Homo sapiens: one gene and its partners. The protein of the gene in region 2 purifies or fractionates together with the protein of the main gene of each other region. This does not show direct contact. Each region holds a gene or a part of one and is shown on either strand. Other genes may lie near its edges. The genes, in order: PBX3, TSHZ1 and MEIS2.

Evidence for each region.
Region 1: the proteins of TSHZ1 (region 2) and PBX3 purify together in Homo sapiens (affinity purification with mass spectrometry; one large-scale study listed by BioGRID and IntAct). This does not show direct contact.
Region 3: the proteins of TSHZ1 (region 2) and MEIS2 purify together in Homo sapiens (affinity purification with mass spectrometry; one large-scale study listed by BioGRID and IntAct). This does not show direct contact.

Annotation. Positions count from the first base shown.
Region 1 is NC_000009.12:125,911,232-125,914,879, forward strand, and holds part of PBX3 (pre-B-cell leukemia transcription factor 3), read left to right. Parts: intron 1-3,648. UniProt on the Homo sapiens protein: Transcriptional activator that binds the sequence 5'-ATCAATCAA-3'.
Region 2 is NC_000018.10:75,209,495-75,213,725, reverse strand, and holds the start of TSHZ1 (teashirt homolog 1), read right to left. Parts: upstream 2,930-4,231; 5' UTR 1,850-2,929; coding exon 1,810-1,849; intron 1-1,809. UniProt on the Homo sapiens protein: Probable transcriptional regulator involved in developmental processes. May act as a transcriptional repressor.
Region 3 is NC_000015.10:37,093,930-37,097,577, reverse strand, and holds part of MEIS2 (homeobox protein Meis2), read left to right. Parts: intron 1-1,147; coding exon 1,148-1,289; intron 1,290-1,963; coding exon 1,964-2,014; intron 2,015-3,000; coding exon 3,001-3,051; intron 3,052-3,648. UniProt on the Homo sapiens protein: Involved in transcriptional regulation. Binds to HOX or PBX proteins to form dimers, or to a DNA-bound dimer of PBX and HOX proteins and thought to have a role in stabilization of the homeoprotein-DNA complex.

The DNA of each region.
Region 1 (3,648 bases), on a different chromosome or scaffold from region 2:
TATTTTGACTGCATCTTACTTAAGGATTTCAGATAGAAAATTATTTTACCTTTTTTATGTTTGGGGAGAAAAGTAGCAACACGTCTGTCTTAATCTTTCTTCTTCATCTATAGTTTGGGTTACACTTCTCAAACTGTGGCTGACTTGATTTTTAAATGAAGAAAGCACAGAAAATAAAGTAGGTATTTTTACTAATTAGCTTTGTGACTTCTGACCACTATCCTGCATGTTACTTTAAAATAACAGACACAAAAGAAAAGCTATGAAAAATTATAAGAATAACAGAAAACATTAATATTAAAATTGTCGCTTATTTCAAAGCAGTCAAGAATTCAGGGCCTGCTGAAAATATCTCATCTGGCCTTGTTTTACATGGCACTCTGCTAAAACATTTTTCTCTGAGCTAAGACTGTGGTGTGGTAGTTGAATGAATCAAAAAACAAGTCCATCAGAAAACAAAATTACAGCGACGTCGTAGGCCTAAGCTTATGAATAATTTGGGGCCTAAATTTATGGTATGCTCATTAGGAGAAAAAAAAATCAAACAACTCAAGTTTCCATAATAGCTTTTTGTTTCTCAGCAGGTCTGAATAATGTACTCTTTACTAAGTAAAAGTGATGTGATGACAACTTTTATCATTATTATGGATATTATCTATCTTCCCTGATTATGGAAATATTGTAGGGCTAGATCTTAGTTACGTCTAATTCAGGACCACGTGTAGAACATATTTGAAATAGCTATGGTCTGAAGCCATACTCTTCAGTGCTGGATGAACAGAGGTTAGTCATGGTCCAGTGGGCTTGGTCCTTGAAATGAGGGAGCCACAAAGCTTAGTTAGTGCACTGTGTTGTTTGCACCTCATTCACTCAGGTCAAGCCTTCATTGTGTTACAGTGTTCTTCTGTTAGAAAGGCTCCTACTGTACAATCTAGCCAATGCAGATTTCTAATCTGCTTATTTATAATTCAAAAGCTTGCCTATATATTAATGAACCCTTAATGAGCTGTTGAAAATGCCTGAATTACAGTCAGATTATTAAACTCAAACAGCCCCGTAATCATACCATTTGAGTGGGCTTTAGGTACTTTTCACATCTGCAGCTTAGAATTGTGAAGGGTATGCGTTTATTCGGAGAAAGCTTTGTAATAATTTTGACCCGTAATTTATTTATTGCCCTCCAAATGCAGTCGTCTATGCAGATGCTCTCTCCCATTATCTGTGGGGCAGGTGCACAGCATGTTGAAAGACAGCTAATTAGGATTTGCTGAAAGATATGCAAAAACTGTAGGCTTATAACAAAGCCAAGTTCATTGTTAAACAATGTTTTACTGTGTTTGTATGATTTGTCTAAATCTTAGGGATACGGAAATGAATGTTGTGATTATAAGTAGATTGCAAATAGGGTTTATTTTTTAAACTTTATAATGTTGTGATGACCAAAGAACCTAGATGTAAACCTTTATAAACCTCTGTATGTTTCATTATACATACATTTTGGATTAAAAACAAGTACAATCAAATTTTAAATGATTGTTTTACCATGTTTCAATTTGAAGATATCAAGATATTTTGATAACCACACAGTCTGATTCATTCTGGCCCTTGCAAATTTAGACCCATTAAAATGTTTATAGGTGCCCAGAGGAGTAGGTATTATGACTAAAAGCCAGTGTAACTCTAGAAAGTTAGTAAACTAAGTAATAGTGAGTGGCTAGGTAGGTAGGATGAGGAATAAAATGGTAACTAAATGTTTTTAAGTAAGAAAATAAATAGAAATATTCAAATTGAAAGTAATTTTGGAAACCAGGTATTAGTATTTAAAGATCCCATAATCATTACTTTGCTTAATAAAGAAAAGAAACCGATTCACTTTTCAGACTAGTTATGAAAATTCCTTTATTATTGATAGTCTTCTTCTTGTTGCCTATTTGCAAAGTACTTTAGTACTTTTCATCTAAAGAACTATGAGTTTTCCGTCAGGAAATGATTTTTCTGATGAAATTTGATGCACATAATTTATAAAGTAAATACAAAGGATTGCATTAAAACATATTTTCCTGTTCTTGAGGCAAGCACTTAGTGTTGATTTACTGATAATTTTAGAAATAAGATATTTTTTCATTATAAGAGTAAAACGTTATAGTAATTGATACTGTATACTTATAATTGTTTTTATTTGTGTCCACGGCTTTTGAGCTTATGGATTGCTTCTTATTGGTACAATAATGATGGTTTATATACGTATTTATATACATATGTATAAAAGTATCATAGATGGCTAATTAGTTTTGTGCCTTTTGCATTTGTTCCTAATGAATTTCCTTCTGTCTCTCTTATGGTGTACTTCCTTGTATGTTTGTCATTGAGCTTCTTCTCTTGTTTGCCGTACATGTGCAGGGAAGTGTAATCATTTTGGGTATGGAAGTTAATCTGCTATTAAAGTACTTCACCACATGTCCATAGGGAAAAGATTAATGTGTTTAACTACAAGGGGAAAACTAGAAACCCGGAGGAAACTTGAAGGTAGATTAAAAAAACACATTTCAGGAGAGGCACCAGTGTCTATGTAAATACAAAAATCAACAAACACACAAAACTGTGGGCAAAAATTCAGTTGAAAATGGAGAAACTTGAGAAGTCCTCAAACAAGAATAAAAAATTAAACAATTCAAAGTGCAGCATAAGAGATTGCTCAGTAAGCTCTCATTGCATGCCAAATGCACAAAAAACTTGCTATGTGAACTACAAGCATGTACAGGTCGTGAGATTTTTAACATTTAACACAGTGAATTAAAAGAGAGGAAAATTAAAGATTTAAATTAAAAATGCAAACTTAACCAATACATGGCAGTTCTAGAACAATATTAGGCAGTCCCTTTTAGTTATAGAAGAAACAGCAAATACGTTTGCCTATTTTTAATTATCAGCAGTGTGTTGGTACGCATTTTATGAGTTATCTTTTTGCTCTCCTAAATGAATATATTGTCTTAGTATATTATAGTTTTCAAACCTTATTTGCCTCTGAATAGACAACAGATAAAATTTTAAATTATGGTGAGTTAGTTTTATTATCCAGTTGAAATTATTCTGAAGTATAATTTTAAATGAAAGTGACAGCTTTAAAGTGTTTTGGGGAAGAAATTAAAGTTTTGCATTTGTGTTAAGGCAACCAAGAGCTCTGTCATGCCATGGATGTAATTCAGGGCATCTAGGAATGAAATCTGTTCTTAAAAGAATTGACGGTAGCTTTAGGTTAGCATATAAAATCAGAGTTGGTGATCAGTTGAGTACTTGGCAGCTTATAGATGTTATGTCATGTAAGTTACACTAGACACAAAGTGTGTACCACTGTGGATAAACAACAACAGGCACAGACTCAAAAGAGAATCCAAATACAAACAAGCAAGGTGCCAACTTCCTTTTCCCCTCTTCCCCAAGAAGCCTTGTAACTAGTGTAGGGAACCTGCTTTGAAGCAGATTTACAGAGGTTAATTGGGCTGGGATGTTTTAGATTATGTTACACATTAATGAAAATGCTGATTTTGAGCTGTCATGACTCCAATGCTTTTTATACCATGATAATTATTTTAAAACTTTGTCTTCTGTGTTGTTGAAAACATTTTGGCAGAAAGCCTGTGTGACCTG
Region 2 (4,231 bases):
CGCCTTGACGGCTTGTTTTTATGTAAGAGCTGCCAGGATGGATTACCATGCACCATCATGCCCTTGTCAACTTTCAAACCTTTTATTTAAAAAAAAAAAAAATGTGGTATTTAAAGTTGCAGTACCTCATTCCCTCAGCATTTTGTTTGTCCTTGGAAATATTCACCGCAATTTTAACTGCAAAAGTTCTTAAGAGTACAGGAGTAGTTTTCTGAACACAACTTTTTATTGTACATTCTGTCATTTAAAAAAAAATCCCTCTAACTGTGAAAATGTAAAGACCTCTTGTTTCTAGCATGAGCAAGTGGCGAATATCTTGAGACACTGAGCTATATTATTTGGGGGCTACCAGTGGCATAGATACTCTCTTTGAAAGGTTTCTTCCTCCATTACTCAAAGTTATTCCAAAATAAATATTCTCCATTCTGTTCCTTTTATGTTGTGAATACTCAGCATAAGGTAATCTCCTTCAACTCTTTGAGAGCATCTCTATCAGTGATCTAATGGAAATGATGAGGTTATTTTACTGAACCATTCATAAACGTAGATACTATTCCCAAATTTTTTTAGTAGCAGTAATCTCTGCTTTAAGTGCTTCCCCAGAAAAAGCACGTATAAAGACTTGAACACGTGCACATTACTGAATGTGATACTCAAACTTATTCAGATTCTATTCTGTACTGCAACAGCTAAAGAGTCGCTCATGTTTAAACATAAAACACTCCTTCTAATATTTTTACCCTAAGAGCTTGGAGAGAGTTGATTTACTCTATTATTTAGCGATAACTCACTGGCATATGGGTTGCATTCTCAGCCCCACAAACGCAATGTCCAAAACTGAGACAAGACTTGAGCAGGCAGCAGAATCACTGGGCTATTTTCAAACCTGTGCTCAAAAACGCACGGCAGCTGACCCACCCCAGGTTTAGCAATGGATTAGTAGGTGAGCTGAGTTAAGGGATGCTGCAGCTGTAAAACTTCTGAGACAAAATTAAAATGGAGCAGCAAAAGGGGGAGCGAGAGAGAAAAGTTGCCCTGATAGTGGCGGAGCTGTCAGGAGCATGTGTGTTTCCATGGTGAGTGATTTATTGATGTTTATCAGGAATGAATAGATCAAAGGCTGCCAGATGACAGGCGATCAATCACACATCAAATCAAGGATGGCAATCCTCTAATAAAACAGAAAACAAGGAAAACCAGCTCCTGCCAGTTCCTCCTCCAGAGAAAAATAACTTTTCTGTTCAATCAGAGTCTGCACTATCACTGCCTTGTGCTGGCCTGATCAAAAGACATCTTTAGAGGTAATAAAAAAAAAGTGGGGGCGGGGGGCCTCTTGCACAGGACATTAAAGGCTGCTGTTTTCCAGAGAAATCTTCTGAACACATTCTTTGCGTCCCAGCCTGGTGACCTTGTTTTCAAGTGTCAGGTTCAGCCTCCCCGCCTTTGGAGGACTTTTCCAGTGCGCTCCGGCAGCCAAGGAGCAACTACTTCCCCTCAGCGCACGCCCCCTCCTGAGGTAGCCAGAAGCACCCGCCGTCCCGCGGCCCCCGGCCTCCCCCGGCCATCCGGGCTTCCCGCAGCGCAGAGAAGCACCGCGAACTTTCTCTGCTCCACGCGCCGGCCCAGGTTGGGGGTGTGGGGGAGGACGGCGACCGCAGCCTCCAGACGACTGTGGCCAGCGCAGGCTGGGCCTCCCCTCCCCAGCTTGGGGCGGCCCGCGGCCCACGTCCCGCACCTCGGCCCGCGAAGCCCCCTCCTCCTGCTCCTCCCGGCGCCCACTCCCCGCGGCGCGGGCCGCGCGCCCGTTACCTGCCGAGCGCCGGGGGGCCTGCTGCTTCCTCCTCGGCATGCTGCTCGGCCGCCGCAGCCGTCGCCTCAGCCGCCGCCGGAGTTCGCGGGGCGCGGGGACGCGGGGCCCCGGGCGCGGGCGCAACTCCGCGGCGCGCCCAACTTTGGCCTCGTCCCCGCGGGCTCCGGGCTCCGGGCGCGCCGCGGACCGCGGGGAGCCGCTCGCATGGACCGCCGCGCCCGGGGCCGCTCAGGAGGCGGCGGCGGCGGCCGCGCGGCCCGCTTCCCGGCGCCGGGCTGCGGGCGGAGCGCGCGGGGCCTGGGCGCCGAGCCCGGAGTCATCCCCGGCGCGGGCCGCGGGCGCAGCAGCGGGCGCTCGGCGGGCCGGCCCGCGGCCCGCGCTCCATGCTGCCGCCTCCCCGCCGCCGCGCTGCTGCTGGGCGGGCGCTCCTCCCGGCGCGCCGCTCCGGGCGCTCCCCTGCGCCTTCTTCCGCGAGCCGAGAGTCGCCGAGCGCAACTTTCTCTCCCCCTCTCTCCTCGCTGTTTGGGGGTCGCGGCGAGTGTTTTTAGTGCGCGGGTCGCAGCTTTCTCATTGTGCGCCAGCGAGGCCGATGCAGGCTGTCCTTTTCCTCCCCGCACTTAGTCTAAGAGGAAGAAAGCAAACAAGACAGAGGAGTGAAGCCCCCGTACATACATGCGCCGGGGGGAGATGTCAGGCGCTGCTCCACCTTCCAAACAGTCACAGATCAAACAGTGTCACCCCGCCGGAGCGCCACTTGGTGCCCCGCGCTTCCACCCGGGGGGCTTGGCCGCCAGGATCGCCGCTTCTTCCAATGCGAAATCTAATGCAAACACATTTTGATCATGGATTTTTGGCCGGTCTTGATCTTCCAACAGAAAAAAATTTGAAAAATACACAAAAAGCACCCCCCCCTCCAAGAAAAAAAAAAGGCAACAACAACCCGGAGAGTGTGTGCAAAGGGGGTGAAGAGCAGACATTCACTGGGTGGGCGAGATGAGCGTGGACTGTCCCCCCCCCCCTCAAACTCCTGGGAGAGAGGGAGATGCACTCTCGCTCTCTCCTCTTTTCAGTGAAATATAACACACATTCGGATCGCAGAGCTTTCAGACAGTCTCAACTGATAGACAGACACATCGAGCTGCTTTTCCTGCTTCAGTTTTTACTCCTCCTCCTCTCGCCAACGTCACCCTGACAATTACAAATAGGTCTCTCACAAACCATACCTGTCAATCTTTTTAATTGCTTTGTTTTCTTTTTTTCGGAGCTAAACAATATGACAAAAAAAAGAAATCTTAATACAGCATAACATAAAAGATTGTACATTGGAGGAATTCATTCAGTGTTGTTATTGTAACCCACTGGCTGATACCGGGTAAAACCCATATGCTCTAAGTTAAGTAGACATTAGTTCCTGCAGATTTTTAAACCTGTTAGTTCCCCCCCAACACACACACATACACATACACACACTTGCACATTCATACACACGCAACCACGTGCATCCAAACTACCCTTGGGTGAAGCATGTCCTACATTTGGGGGGAAAAATATCTGTGTCGCTTTTGCAATCTCAGGTTGGGGGGTTAGATTTGGCTGGGGAGGAGCCCAGAGTAGCTTTTATATTTTGGTAATTCGTGGGTAACTGAAAAGCAAGATATTTTTAAAATTAAATTTTACAATTTAAATAAAAATGTAAAGATGGACTTAGTTCATCACAGAAAAGTGTGGAAATATTTAATTTGGCCCCTCTATAAAAAGTGAATTGACATTTGGTCCATGCACGCCAGTAGGGAGAAAACGGACACGATGGAACGACAGATCTTTCTAGCTGGGTTCGAAAATGAGGTCCTCACACAGCAGTGCAACGTCTCCAATTCAGTTAAGTCCCTCGGCATCCCCACGTAGAACTTTAAAATGTGTCTGTGCTCTGGGAATTTGGCCTTCTGGTTTTCTATATGTGTGTTCTCTCCCAATGGGAAACCTGTAACAGTCTTGTAGATCTACTTAAAACATTCATGGAAAAACATGAAATCTAGGCCAAAATAAATAAAATGGCTTAGTTCCTGCAACTTGCATGGGACAGACCGTGGACAGAAAGCACGCGCAAGGGGTTCCGGGGACAGGAAGCCACCAGCCTGGGGAGCGGGAGGCACTGGACATTTCCCCGCCCCGCGGTCGGTACGGGTGCGCGTGCGGCAGCGGCGGCAGGGGCTCCCCGCCCTGCCCGGGGTCCCCGGTCGTGCCCCGCCGCCCGGGCCGCGCTCGGGGTTGATTCGTACCACCTTGCAAGGAAGTGAACGCTTCGCACGGGAAGGGGAGGCGCCTGCGCCGGCCGCCGCGCAGCTCCGGGGACGCCCGGGGCTGCCGCCGGCTCGGGGCCGCAGACGACCGCGGGACGCGCGAGTCCCCCGTCCCCCCTTG
Region 3 (3,648 bases), on a different chromosome or scaffold from region 2:
TTTTTATTTTTTACTTTTTTTTCTTCTGTTTCCTACTGAGGGTCTGGGAGTCACTAACAGCAGCTTGAGCTGGGATCAGGGCTGCTTCTGTCGGCCAGGAAGTCCTAATCACCCACTTCTTAATTCTCTGTAAATAAAGGGGGCAGACCTCGAAGTGCAGCGAGGTGGAAGGGACTCTTGCTTGCTTGGAGCCGCTCTTAGGGGGAGTAAGGAAGATGGCTGGAAATTATTTTATATTCTGAGAGCACTTGGCGAGGGGTGAGATGCACGATCCTAACGTGTACCACACGAGCTCTTCCGGCTGAGGGTAGGTGGGCAAAGCGACGGGATGCCGAGGGGAGGGGACAGTGGGTAAACAGCAACTGAGCCCCAAGCCAGAGGCCGCAAGCATCCCGAAGTGTGGCTAAGCCGCCCGGAGGAACACAAAGGGCATACGCGCACGCACACTTAAAGTTTTAAAACACGATTTATTTATTTTTGTCTGCTGCAACGCTGGGAGAAATGTGGTCTTTGGAAGGAAGCTCTCCAGTGTGTAACCTTCCTATTATTTTGGCCCCCACACTGTGGCTTTAGTAGAACAGGAGCAAACAAGTTTATAAGGCAAGGAGGTGGAGAGATTAAAAGAGCATTCTCTTGCATTTATGAAGTGTCACTCCGGTGTGTATGTAGGTGAAGCCTTTGGCCTCGTCTGAAATGCCCATTAAAATGCAGAGTTAAAACTATTTTTTTTTCAATTTCACACAGTGTTCCCTTCTTGGGAGGTCAGGGCTGGGTCTCAGGGGTTGGTTCCGCGGCCTCCGTAGTGTGGGGAGTGGATCAGAATCGACTCGGGCTCCAGACTGCCTGAGCGTCTCGGATGTTTCATTACGTTCCAACTGAGGCTGTTTTTATTTGTCGGGCTGCAGTGGCCGGGGTCTTCTCTGGCCAGATCTGAGGGACCTCTGAGCTGCGGGAGAGGGCCAGGCCCTTTTCCCTTTCTGTTTCTGGCTTAGGCTCGCCTGATGGAGGAAGGGTTGTAAAGTGTGGTGCGTGCCTGTTGTATTAAAGAAGGACTCCACACCCTCCAAACTTGTTGATTACAGTTCTTGCTCCTTCCCCTCTGCACCCCGTCTCTGTGTGTGTGTCTCTGCGTGGCGCTGCCCGTTAGGCACCCGTTGTTTCCTCTGTTAGCTCTGGTCTTTGAGAAGTGCGAGCTGGCGACCTGCACTCCCCGGGAACCTGGAGTGGCTGGCGGAGACGTCTGCTCCTCCGACTCCTTCAACGAGGACATCGCGGTCTTCGCCAAGCAGGTCCAGCCTTCTTGATCCACTCAACTTCGGGCAGTCCCTCACTACCCCTCCCCTTTCCTCGGAGCTTTACTTGAAAGGAGGAAAGGCCAGGGACACCCTATCTGTTCCTCTGGCCCAGTCCGCTCTCTACGCCTCCTCCCCATCCCTGAGCCTGGGGGCGAATTGGAAGTGGAGATAAATATGGGTGTTTGTTTTCCCCCCCAGCAGGAATACAGGGGTCGACCCTCGAATTAAAGTTGACCTGCTCCTAATCTGGGGCTTGGCCTTTTTCCCCCGCCTCCAGCTACTTGAACAAGAATTGGGGAGAGGGGCTGTGAGGGACCCGGGAGTGCCCGGGAGGCAAGGAAGCTGGGCGCCTCTCCGAGCGGTCCCAGGCAGCAGTGGAGAGCCACAGCCTCTTGGACTGCTGGATATGGAACTCGAGGCCCTGAGAACGACCCTGAGTTCCTGGCTACAGCTTAGTCGTACCAGGTCCCCCTTAATGGGGCCAGGACCAGAATGCCCTGATTCTTCTTCAGGGACTCCACTAATTTAAGGCACCAGTTTCTTTCTTGTATTTTGCCAAAGCCCCTTTCCTCTTCTCCGCCATTGCCCTCCACCGTACCCATTCTCACATTTCAGCTTTCTTATTTTAAATGGGGTGATCGTTCAAGTTGACTCTCTGTTTCTTACAGGTTCGCGCCGAAAAGCCACTTTTTTCCTCAAATCCAGAGCTGGACAATTTGGTAAGGCTCTCTGTTCCTTGTTTTTCCCCAGCCTTTGCCCTCTCCCATGCCCAGAAGCACCCACTTTCTGCTGGAGCTCTGGGGAGTTAGAACAGAACCCTCTTTTGGAGCTCTAGGGAGAGAGGGAGGAAGGGAGCAGCTTAGAGCCCCCGCACGGGAGCTGGCGAGCGAGGAGCAGGATGAACGCGGTGGGGAGCGAAGCCCAGGGAGGCCGAAACGGGAGACCGAGCGCCGAGAGCGCGAGCAGGGGATGTTTCCCAGGTCTCGGCCCCAGGAGTAAACTGCGAGAAGTGAGTTATTTCCTCTGTTTGCCGGGGCAGGCGGCCGAGCCCCGGGCGGCTAACCCGAAGGATGTAACCACTGGCACGGCTGAGGGCGGGCTGGGGGTGGGGGCTGGGGGGCGGTGAGGGGCAGGCCAGCGCAGGCCACTTTTAGGTGCGATTCTTTTGCTAATTTGCACGATTTCAATATTAAAAGTACTTAAATCCGCTTTCAAAGGCCCTGCCTCAGCATTCATCTTGAGTATTTCCTTCTTTAGTGAGGAAGGATTTCGCTGGGTATGCTGTTCTAAAAAGCTTTTTCTATCCTGAGAAGGGACCTTTTTTTTTTTTTTTTTTTTTTAAGGAAAAAAAAAAAAGTTGTCCTGAGGTCGAGGGAGGGGATGTTTAAAGAGGACTAAGAGGAGAAAAAAGGCCTGGCCCGAGGAAAGCAGTCTTACAAATAGCACAGTGAACATCAGGGGGAAAGATATTAATGCTTATGCTCAGGTTGAGTCAGATTCCTACCCCGTGGCCAATGAGGCAGAGATGATCAGTAATCACTTGATTTTTCTGACTATTTCTTGATGTTTAAGTTTTTCCTGGCCACCTGCCCGTTTCTTCTCCCCAGCCCAACTTTCTCACCACCATCCTCACCCCACTCCCAACCCCAAGACAGGACCTCAGAGTCACAGAGCTCTAACTCCATTCCCTGAACTTTTCTTTCAGATGATACAAGCAATACAAGTACTAAGGTTTCATCTTTTGGAGTTAGAAAAGGTAAGCAGGAAATAACGCTCCCCGTGTTGATTAAACCATTTCCCTCTCCTAGTTGAGTTGGGATGTTTTTAACAAACCTCTAGTGTGAGGGATTGAGCACCTGGAGATTTTGAGCATGTAACCATGTCCATCCTTCAACTCGCTTCTCAACACAGGGGCTCAGAGGGTGGGTGAATCAGGACAGCCTTGCCTTTAAAGTAGCCTCCTCCTCCCCAATATTCCCCTCAGGCATTCAGGATTATTTTGAAATGCAGCAAACCATTTATGTTACTGGACACTCAGCCTGCTTGCATCTTTATTAGCTCAGCTCACCCTCGGCCCTGGGTTTGCATTAGGTGCAGGCAGAGTGAATCATCCTTGCTGGGTGTCTTTACATTGCTCTGCAGCTCAATTACTTTCCCCTGGAAACATACGAAACCCCTAGCTTATAAAATCACAAACGTTAATGCTCTCCCCAGCTCCAATGTTGTAATGTTTTGATGTTATTATCAAATCAGATTTAATTCCCTGGACTCCCACTCTGAACCCAGTTATTTCCAGTCCTGTTTCTTTCTCTCTCTATTGTAACTTGTTGCTCAGAGAAGTCTCTGGAGAATA